3 separate regions of the Homo sapiens genome follow, and regions 2 and 3 are each linked to region 1. Evidence: fine-mapped expression QTL. A gene starts in region 1. Each other region holds a variant in brackets. All regions are shown on one strand. Distances are between the middles of the regions.

Region 1 (2,762 bases):
TGACAATTAAATGCAACGGATGATCCTTAATGGTAGACTAATTGGGAAAAAAAGAAAATCAGCGACAAGGGATATTACTGGGATATTTTGCAAAATTGAATATATATGGCCTGTATGTTACAGATGATTACATTGTATTAGTATGAAAGTTTCTTGGAGTGATCATGGAATTCTGATTATGTGGGAGATTATCTTTATTCTTAGTAGATATGTACTGAAATATTTAGGGATAAAGGGTAACAGTGTCTACAAAAACTCAAGTGATTCAGCAAAATAAACCATACACACAGACACATAGATAGCAAATGTGGCAGAATGTTAAAAATTGGTGAATATGGGTTAATTTGGCTGTTAATTGTATTTTCCTTGTAACTTTTCTATAGGGTTTGATATTTTTTTGAATATAAAAAGTTAAGGACTCTTCAAAATCCAAGCAGAGTTTCCCGTTCTGATTTATCATCCTTAGTGTAAGCCACCTTGTCAAAGATACAGTTGTGTGACCAATGAGGGAGTTAATAGTCAGAATGCGTATCTTTCAAAAACTATTGTAATTATTTACATAAATAAGAGAACATTGCAGTTATCTTTTTGTGTCACTATCAACTTGATTCACATCTTTTGTAGGCAGCCTGATAAGGTGGTTTGTCGACGGCCAGGCCTGAATTTCGATCCTGGCTGGTTAAACTTTTTAACCTCGTTGGGACTCAGTTTCCTCATTGTAGGATGCAGAAAATAACTACTTGGTGTGATTGTTGTTTTGAATTGTTATACACCTGGTGTTTACGGAAGCGAGTTTCAATTCATGTGCAAAACCTTTGTCCTACCTTGAATGCTATCTGTATCTTTTCCTTCATTAAACTCATGCAATCCTGGAGGGCACTTAGAGGTGGGAGAGAAAATGACTTCTCCAAGGTCACACCGCTAATCGCGGACCCAGGTTTCCCAGCTTTTGGTCGTGTGCCCTTTCCACGCCTGCCGGAGAGGAGGAAGCGGCGCTCATGGGGTTGCAAGGATGTAGAGGAGCAAAGGGAGAGAAGAGGCCGCGGGAAGAGAGGTGGTGCGAGACCCGCGGAGGCGCCGGCCAAGGACGGGCGCATGGAGCAGCGGGCGGCGCGACCGGCCGGGGTGCGGAGGGGAGAGGCCGCGGCGGGGAGGGAGGGTCCCGCGGGTCCGGTGCCCGGGAGAGGCGGGCGGCCTGGGCCAGCCGCAGGATCGCAGGAGGCGGAGGCCCGGGCCGCGGGCTGGGGTGGGGGAGGCCGAGGGCCAGCGCGGCCATGGGCGGCGGCCACTTCTGCACAGGTGGGTGGGGCGGGGGCGCGGGGCGCTGGGCGCGCGGCGCTGGGGTCCCGACCCCCGGGGCCGGCGGGTGGGGGCGGGGCGGGGGCGGGGCCGGACGGGGGCGGGTCTTGCTGGGTCCCTGCTGGAGCGGCGGCGGCGGCGGCGGCGCAGGCGCGGTTCTCGTCTCCTCCCGGCCGGCGGAGCGAGTGGAGGCTGCAGCCCAGCTCGTCTCGGCGCCCGCGTCGCCGTCGCGAAGCCCCCCGCCCCGCTTCCGCCGCGTCGGAATGAGCTCCCGGAAAGGTGAGTGGCCCGCGGCGCGCCCTCTCCCCGCCACGCGGCCAGCCCGGGCGGGCGGCCCGACCGTTAATGTGTGTCTTCTCTTCCCCAGTGCTGGCCATTCAGGCCCGAAAGCGGAGGCCGAAAAGAGAGAAACATCCGAAAAAGTGAGTCCACGCTGCGCCTGTCCCCGTTCCCCACCCCCGCCCCGTCGGGGGCGCCCGCGGCCGCGCAGGGGAAAGTTGTCCGGGTCCCCGGGCCGGCGGGCGGGCTGGTCCCCCGGGACGCTGGCGCTCGGCTCCTGCCCCCGGCGGGCGGCCCGGGGGGAGGGGCGGCGGCGGGGGAGGGGCGCGCGGGCCGCGGCCGGTTCCCTAGCATCACGGAGCCTCGACCCCGCGACCTCCCGCCCCGGGTCGCCACCGGCCGGCGGGCGGGAGGCCGGCGGAAAGGCGCCGGGCAGGGCGTGCGCACCCGTCCCTTGCCCGCGAGCTGGCCCGGGGGTCGCGGCCCTTTCCGGAAGGGGCCCCGGCGTCTGCCGCTGGGCTCCGGCCCGCCCGCTGCGGGAGTGCAGCGGCTGCGTTGCTCCCACCTGAGCCGCGGGCCGAGGAGGCGGAGGGGCCGAGTGTGCGGGAGGGCGTGTGTCTCGCCTCCCCTTCCTCCCCGGCCCCCGCCTGTCGGCCTTTCTGCTGAGAACCTAAGCTGGTTGTCAAGTGGTTTGCCTCGGGCGTGTTCCTGGCGCGAGTTCAGCCCCGAGACCTGTGCGTTTCGGCTCTCGGGTTTGGATTCGAAACTTTCCGCTCGGGTTGAGCGTGACTTGGGTGCGCTGCGGGCGCCGGGGTCGCGGGCTGCGCAGGGCGGTGGGCGTGTGCGCGGGAGCCGGTCGGAGTGGAAAACGCGCCCGTGGCGGCCACCTCCAGCCTGGCCGCTCACCCGAGCAGGGGGGCCGCTGCCCAAGAACCCTTTCCTGGAGAGCTGCTCCGAGACCGCACAGCGCCGCCGCGTCTTCTCCTTTTCCACTCCTCTCTCCTAATTTTTTTGATTTACCAGCGTTCGACATCGTTATCTCTTCCTCTAGATTAATTGCTTCGCTCTTTTGAGCAAGAATACTCTGTGTGGCATCTTTGGTACTGTGGGGAACGAGAATCCAGCATTATCTTTAATAAAATCCAGAAACATTTTTGGTTGTTTCCTTTGAGGGGTACGTCGCA
Region 2 (2,762 bases), 57 kb before region 1:
GGCTCACGCCTGTAATCCCAGCACTTTGGGAGGCCGAGGCGGGTGGATCACGAGGTCAGGAGATCAAGACCATCCTGGCTAACATGGTGAAACCTCGTCTCTACTAAAAATACAAAAAATTAGCCAGGCGTGGTGGCAGGTGCCTGTGGTCCCAGCTACTTGGGAGGCTGAGGCAGGAGAATGGCGGGAACCTGGGAGGCAGAGCTTGCAGTGAGCTGACATAGCGCCACTGCACTCCAGACTGGGCAACAGAGCGAGACTCAGTCTCAAAAAAAAAAAAAAAAAAAATTGCTGGCCAGGCACGGTGGCTCACGCCTGTAATCCCACCACTTTGGGAGGCCAAAGCAGGTGGATCACCTGAGGTCAGGAATTTGAGACCAGCCTGGCCAACATGGTGAAACCCCGTCTCTACCAAAAATACAAAAATTAGCCAGGCATGGTGGCGGGTGCCTGTAGTCCCAGCTACTTAAGAGGCTGAGGCAGGAGAATTGCTTGAACCTGGGAGGCGGAGGTTGCAATGAGCCGAGATTGTGCCACTACACTCCAGCCTGGGCAACAGAGCGAGACTCCATCTCAGAAAAAAAAAAAAAAAATTGCAATATACATTCATAACCAAGTCCACTTTCAAATAACACCATACTGCTTCATGAGTAGTACAGGTCCTTCATGGATAGTACAGATACTTTATAACAGTATTTGCTGGCCAGGCACGGTGGCCCATGCTTATAATCCCAGCACTTTGGGACGTCAAGGTGAGCAGATCATGTGAGGTCAGGAGTTCAAGACCAGCCTGGCTGACATAGTGAAACCTCGTCTCTACTAAAATACAAAAATTAGCCAGGCACGGTGCCAGGCACCTGTAATCCCTGCTACTCGGGAGGCATCCCAAGTTGGGATTGCACCGTTGTACTCCAGCCTGGATGACAGAGTGAGACTCTGTCTAAAAAACAAAAAACAAAAACAAACAAACAAAAAAACAGTATTTGCAACTCCTTTCTACTGCTTTCTAAAGCAAAGAAACGGCTTTCATTGATTTCACATTTCCATGCTATAATCATGCAATTCCTTCTTGCTATTATTATTTTGAATGGTCATATATTAGATCAGTTAATAAGAAAAGTAAAAGGTTATTTTTATTCCTTCTCTGATTCTCTTCCTTTCTTGATATGCATGAGAGTTTCTGACCTATATCATTTTCCTTTTCACTGAGGAACTTCTTTTAACAGTTTTTGCAAGGCAGGTCTGCTGGCAATAAATTCCCTCAGTTTT[T/C]GTTTTTTGAAAAAGTCTCTTTCTCCTTCACTTTTGCAAGATAATTTCACTGGATGTAGATAATTCTAAGTTGGTGGGTTTTTTCTGTCAACACTTTAAATATTTCATTCCACTCTCTATATATTTTCATGGTTTCTGATGAGAAGACCAATGTAATTCTTATGCTTGTTGCTCTATGGGTAAGGTGTTTTTTCCTGGCTTCTTTCAAGATTTTATCTTTGGGCCGGGCGCGGTGGCTCACGCCTGTAATCCCAGCACTTTGGGAGGCTGAGGCGGGCGGATCACAAGGTCACGAGATCGAGACCATCCTGGCTAACACGGTGAAACCCCGTCTCTACTAAAAATGCAAAAAAAGTAGCCGGGCGTGGTAGCGGGCGCCTGTAGTCCCAGCTACTCGGGAGGCTGAGGGAGGAGAATGGCGTGAACCCAGGAGGCGGAGCTTGCAGTGAGCCGAGATCGTGCCACTGCACTCCAGCCTGGGCGACAGAGGGAGACTCCGTCTCAAAAAAAAAAAAGATTTTTATCTTTAATTTTCTGCAATTTGAATATGATATGCTAAAATATAGTTTTATAATATTTATCCTGCTTAGTACTCTCTGAGGATTCTGGATACAATGGTTTGAATGGGTCCCCCAAAATTCATGTATTGGAAACTTGATCCCCAATGTGGCAGTGTTGGGAGGTGGGACTTTAACTTTTAAGAGGTGGTTAGGTCACGAGGGCAGGGCCATTATCTGGGGAATGGGTTTGTTATCACCAGAGTGAATTCCTTATAAAAAGAGGAGTCTGGGTTTCTCTTGCATTCTCTCTGTCTCTCATCCTCTCTTGTCCTCCCACCTTCTGCCATGGGATAACATAACAAGAAGGCCCTTGCCAGTTGCCAGCTCTTTGATCTTGAACGTCCCAGCCTCTAAAACTGTGAGAAATAAATGTATATCCAGTATAAATTAAACAATCTCAGATATTCTTTTATAGCTGCACAAAAATGACTAAGACACTGGATGTGATTTGATGTCTGTCATTAATTTTGGGAAAATTTGTAGTCATTATTCAAATATTTCTTCTGTTCTCTATTCTTCTGGTTTTCCAAAACATGTATGTTATACTTTTTCATATTGTCCCACAGTTCTTGGACATTCCATTCAGGTTTTCTTGTTTTATTTTTTCATTATTTTTTCTCTTTGTATTTCAATGTGGAAGTTTCAGTTAACATATCTGCAGGCTCACTGATTTTGTCCAGTCCACTGACATTCCTCATTTCTGTTACGGTGTTATTTTTTAAATTTCTAGCACTTCCCTTTATTGCTTCTTAGAGTTTCCATCTCTCTGCATACATTATGCATCTGTTCTTGCATGTAATCTACTTTTTCCATGAGAGCCCTTAACATATTAATCATAGTTATTCTCAGTTCCAAAATCTGTGACACCTAGCTGAGTCTGGTCTGATGCTTGCTTTGTTTTTTCTCTTGCCTTAAAACATAGTATGCCATGTG
Region 3 (2,762 bases), 350 kb after region 1:
TGTAATCCCAGCTACTCAGGACGCTGAGGCAGGAGAATCGCTTGAACTAGGGAGTCAGAGGCTGCAGTGAGCTGCGATCGCGCCACTGCACTCCAGCCTGGTGACAGAGCGAGACTCCGTCTCAAAAAAAAAAAAAAGTTATAAATAAAGGGAAAAGGTTTTTAACACAACCTTAACAATTAACACAATGTTTCACATCTTATGTGTGAATCAAAAAACTGGTCATCCAGCTGACAAGTAAAATATGTACAAAATACATTGAGAATAAATGGCAGCCATTAAAGAAATAATAGAAAAGGAAATACCATGAGATGTCTGGTAAATCTGAGGTCCAAGAAAGAATAAATGTCTTCACAAAACCTGCTTATCCAGAATAGACCTAGAAACCAAGTGAACATAGGAGTTTTGAGCTATTTTTAAATGGCATAAAATTATAATTACTTCTAACTGACATGGTACCTAAAACCAAAGTGACTCACACAAAGCAGCCAATTCTTAAAAGGATAAATTTACTCTTCCCTTTTTACACAAATGAATGTAAACACAAGTAAAGGCAACAATCAAAGCTAAATACTAAATCAAACTGGAAAAAGAAACACTGGGATACAATATTAAATTTAATATTTAAAAATGTTTAACTGAAAAATAAATTTTAATACAATATTAAAAACAGATTTAGCAAAGGCAACAATACCAAAACAAAAACAATAAAAACAAACAAGACTCTCAAGTAGGAAAAATGAAGTAAAAGGCAAAAAAAGCAATTAAAGTAGAAAACAGTTTATCAGAAAAACTGGAAGACTGAAGCTGCCTTTAAGACCGTGTTAAAATAAACAGAAAACAGCTGGGCACAGTGGCTCACACCTGTAATCCCAGCACTTTGAGCAGCTGAGGCAGGCAGACTACTTGAGCCCAGGAGTTCAGGAACAGCCTGGGCAACATAGTGAGACATTATCCCTACAAAAAATACAAAAACTAGCTGGATGTGGTGATGCACACCTGTAGTCCCAGTTACTTGGGAGGCTGAGATGGGAGGATTGTTTGAGCCCAAGAGGTCAAGGCTGCAGTGAGCCACGATTGCACAACTGCACTCCAGCCTGGCTGACAGAGGGAGACCCTGTCTTAAAAAAAACAACAAAAAAAAGAAAACAAAAAGTAACACTTTAAAGATTAATATGATACCCAAAAGGCAGAAAGAATAAAAAATATGAG[T/G]AAAAATATTTTTCTAAAATTACAAATAAAAGAGCCCAATATAACAATCTCTTTGAGGAAAGAGCCATTTATTATATTTCTGTCCTTTATAAGCACCTGGCACAGTGCTCAATAAATATTTTAAATTAATGTATATATTTTGGATGTGTATCACTAAGAGACTAGGTAAATTTTTGGCTTAATTACTAATGGAAATAATTAAAGAAACTTGAAAGAAATTTTGAGGAGACATGTAACTGAGACTGGAAATTAAACAGCCCTTATTAGTCATTTAACATTTAATTTACAGCAGCTGACTAAGGTAAAATGAAAAGAATACTAGTCAATCAGATCCATTCCAAGTTACTACCTACGAATGCTTGGGCAAGTCATTTCACTGCTCTGACTTTCAACTATAAATGGAAGTTGATTAGGCTGATGATCTTACAATTACATTAACAGATTATTCCAAATAATCAAAATGACAGAATTTTAGATTCTAAAAAACTATAAAATATAAATGTGATAACAAAATGAATATGCATTTCTACAACTGAGCTAGCATTACTACCAGATAGTGCTCTAGAAGCACTTATCTGATACTCAAACTTCCCCAACTAGTGGTTATAATAATAATGATAGCAAATTCTGAGTGCTTACAATGCTTAATCTCCACAATAAGCCTATGGTATAGGTGCATTTATTATCCCCATTTTACAATGAGGTAGAGAGGTTAAACTTGTCCAAAGTTCATAACTAATAAATAGCCAAATCAAGATCTGAACCCTTGTGGTCTGATTCCAGAGCCTACACATCAGTATGCCTGAAATTAAAAACTGCCAGATGGCTGAGAGCTGTGGCTCACACTTGTAATCCCAGCACTTTGGGAGGCCTAGGCGGGTGGGTCACCTGAGGTAAGGAATTCAAGACCAGCCTGGCCAACATGGTGTAACCGTGTCCCTACTAAAAATACAAAAATTAGCTGGGTGTGGATACACCTGTAATCCCATCTACTTGGGAGGCTGAGGCACGAGAATCGCTTGAACCCAGGAGACAGAGGTTGCAGTGAGCCAAGATTGCTCCACTGCACTCCAGCCTGGGTGACAGACTCTGCCAAAAAAAAAAACAAAAAAAAAAACCAAAAGAACAACAACAACAACAACAAAAAACCCTGCCAGATGATAGGTAAAATAAATAATCTAGAATTTATAATTAAGGAAGAAAAAATTGACAGCTGCCTCTCTCAAAAAGGGAAATTAAATACTTAAGTATCTCACTCCAGAACATCTGAATTGCGTTTCCTCTGATTATTAAATGAAACTGCACTAACAAAACCGACCTTGCTCCTCCCTCAAACCTGATCCAGTTAACAAACTTACATTTAATCTGTAACAATGCATTAAAACACCACAAACGTGGGCAAATACAGTCTCAAAGACTAAAATTTGTGTTTATGGCCGGGTGTGGTGGCTCACATCTGTAATCCCAGCACTTTGGGAGGCCAAGGTGGGTGGATCACCTGAGGTCAGAAGTTCGAGACCAGCCTGGCCAACATGGTGAAACCCCACCTC

Direction of the effects. Alleles are on the strand shown, and positions count from the first base shown. SD is a standard deviation of normalised expression in the study named. Not every link is listed here.
In carriers of allele G in region 3, the expression in gastroesophageal junction of the gene that starts at base 1,448 in region 1 tends to be higher than with T alone (small effect, 0.28 SD a copy in GTEx).

The links.
Region 2: its variant is fine-mapped to the expression of SRPK2 in whole blood (INTERVAL, PIP 0.93).
Region 3: its variant is fine-mapped to the expression of SRPK2 in gastroesophageal junction (GTEx, PIP 0.98).

The regions. Positions count from the first base shown.
Region 1 is chr7:105,387,607-105,390,368 of GRCh38, reverse strand. It overlaps SRPK2 (SRSF protein kinase 2), which reads left to right and starts at 1,448. Exons shown (of 16, transcript NM_182692.3): 1 at 1,448-1,578; 2 at 1,667-1,721. The coding sequence starts at 1,563. RefSeq lists silencers at 1,078-1,247, 1,348-1,397, 1,408-1,477, 1,508-1,637, 1,978-2,097 and 1 more.
Region 2 is chr7:105,444,692-105,447,453 of GRCh38, reverse strand. No RefSeq gene overlaps it. Among named protein-coding and RNA genes, the nearest start is that of SRPK2, 57 kb to the right of the region's middle. The variant T/C (reference allele first, on the strand shown) is at 1,270.
Region 3 is chr7:105,035,743-105,038,504 of GRCh38, reverse strand. KMT2E (lysine methyltransferase 2E (inactive)) reads right to left here. Exons shown (of 27, transcript NM_182931.3): 2 at 306-379. Among named protein-coding and RNA genes, the nearest start is that of KMT2E, 23 kb to the right of the region's middle. The variant T/G (reference allele first, on the strand shown) is at 1,213.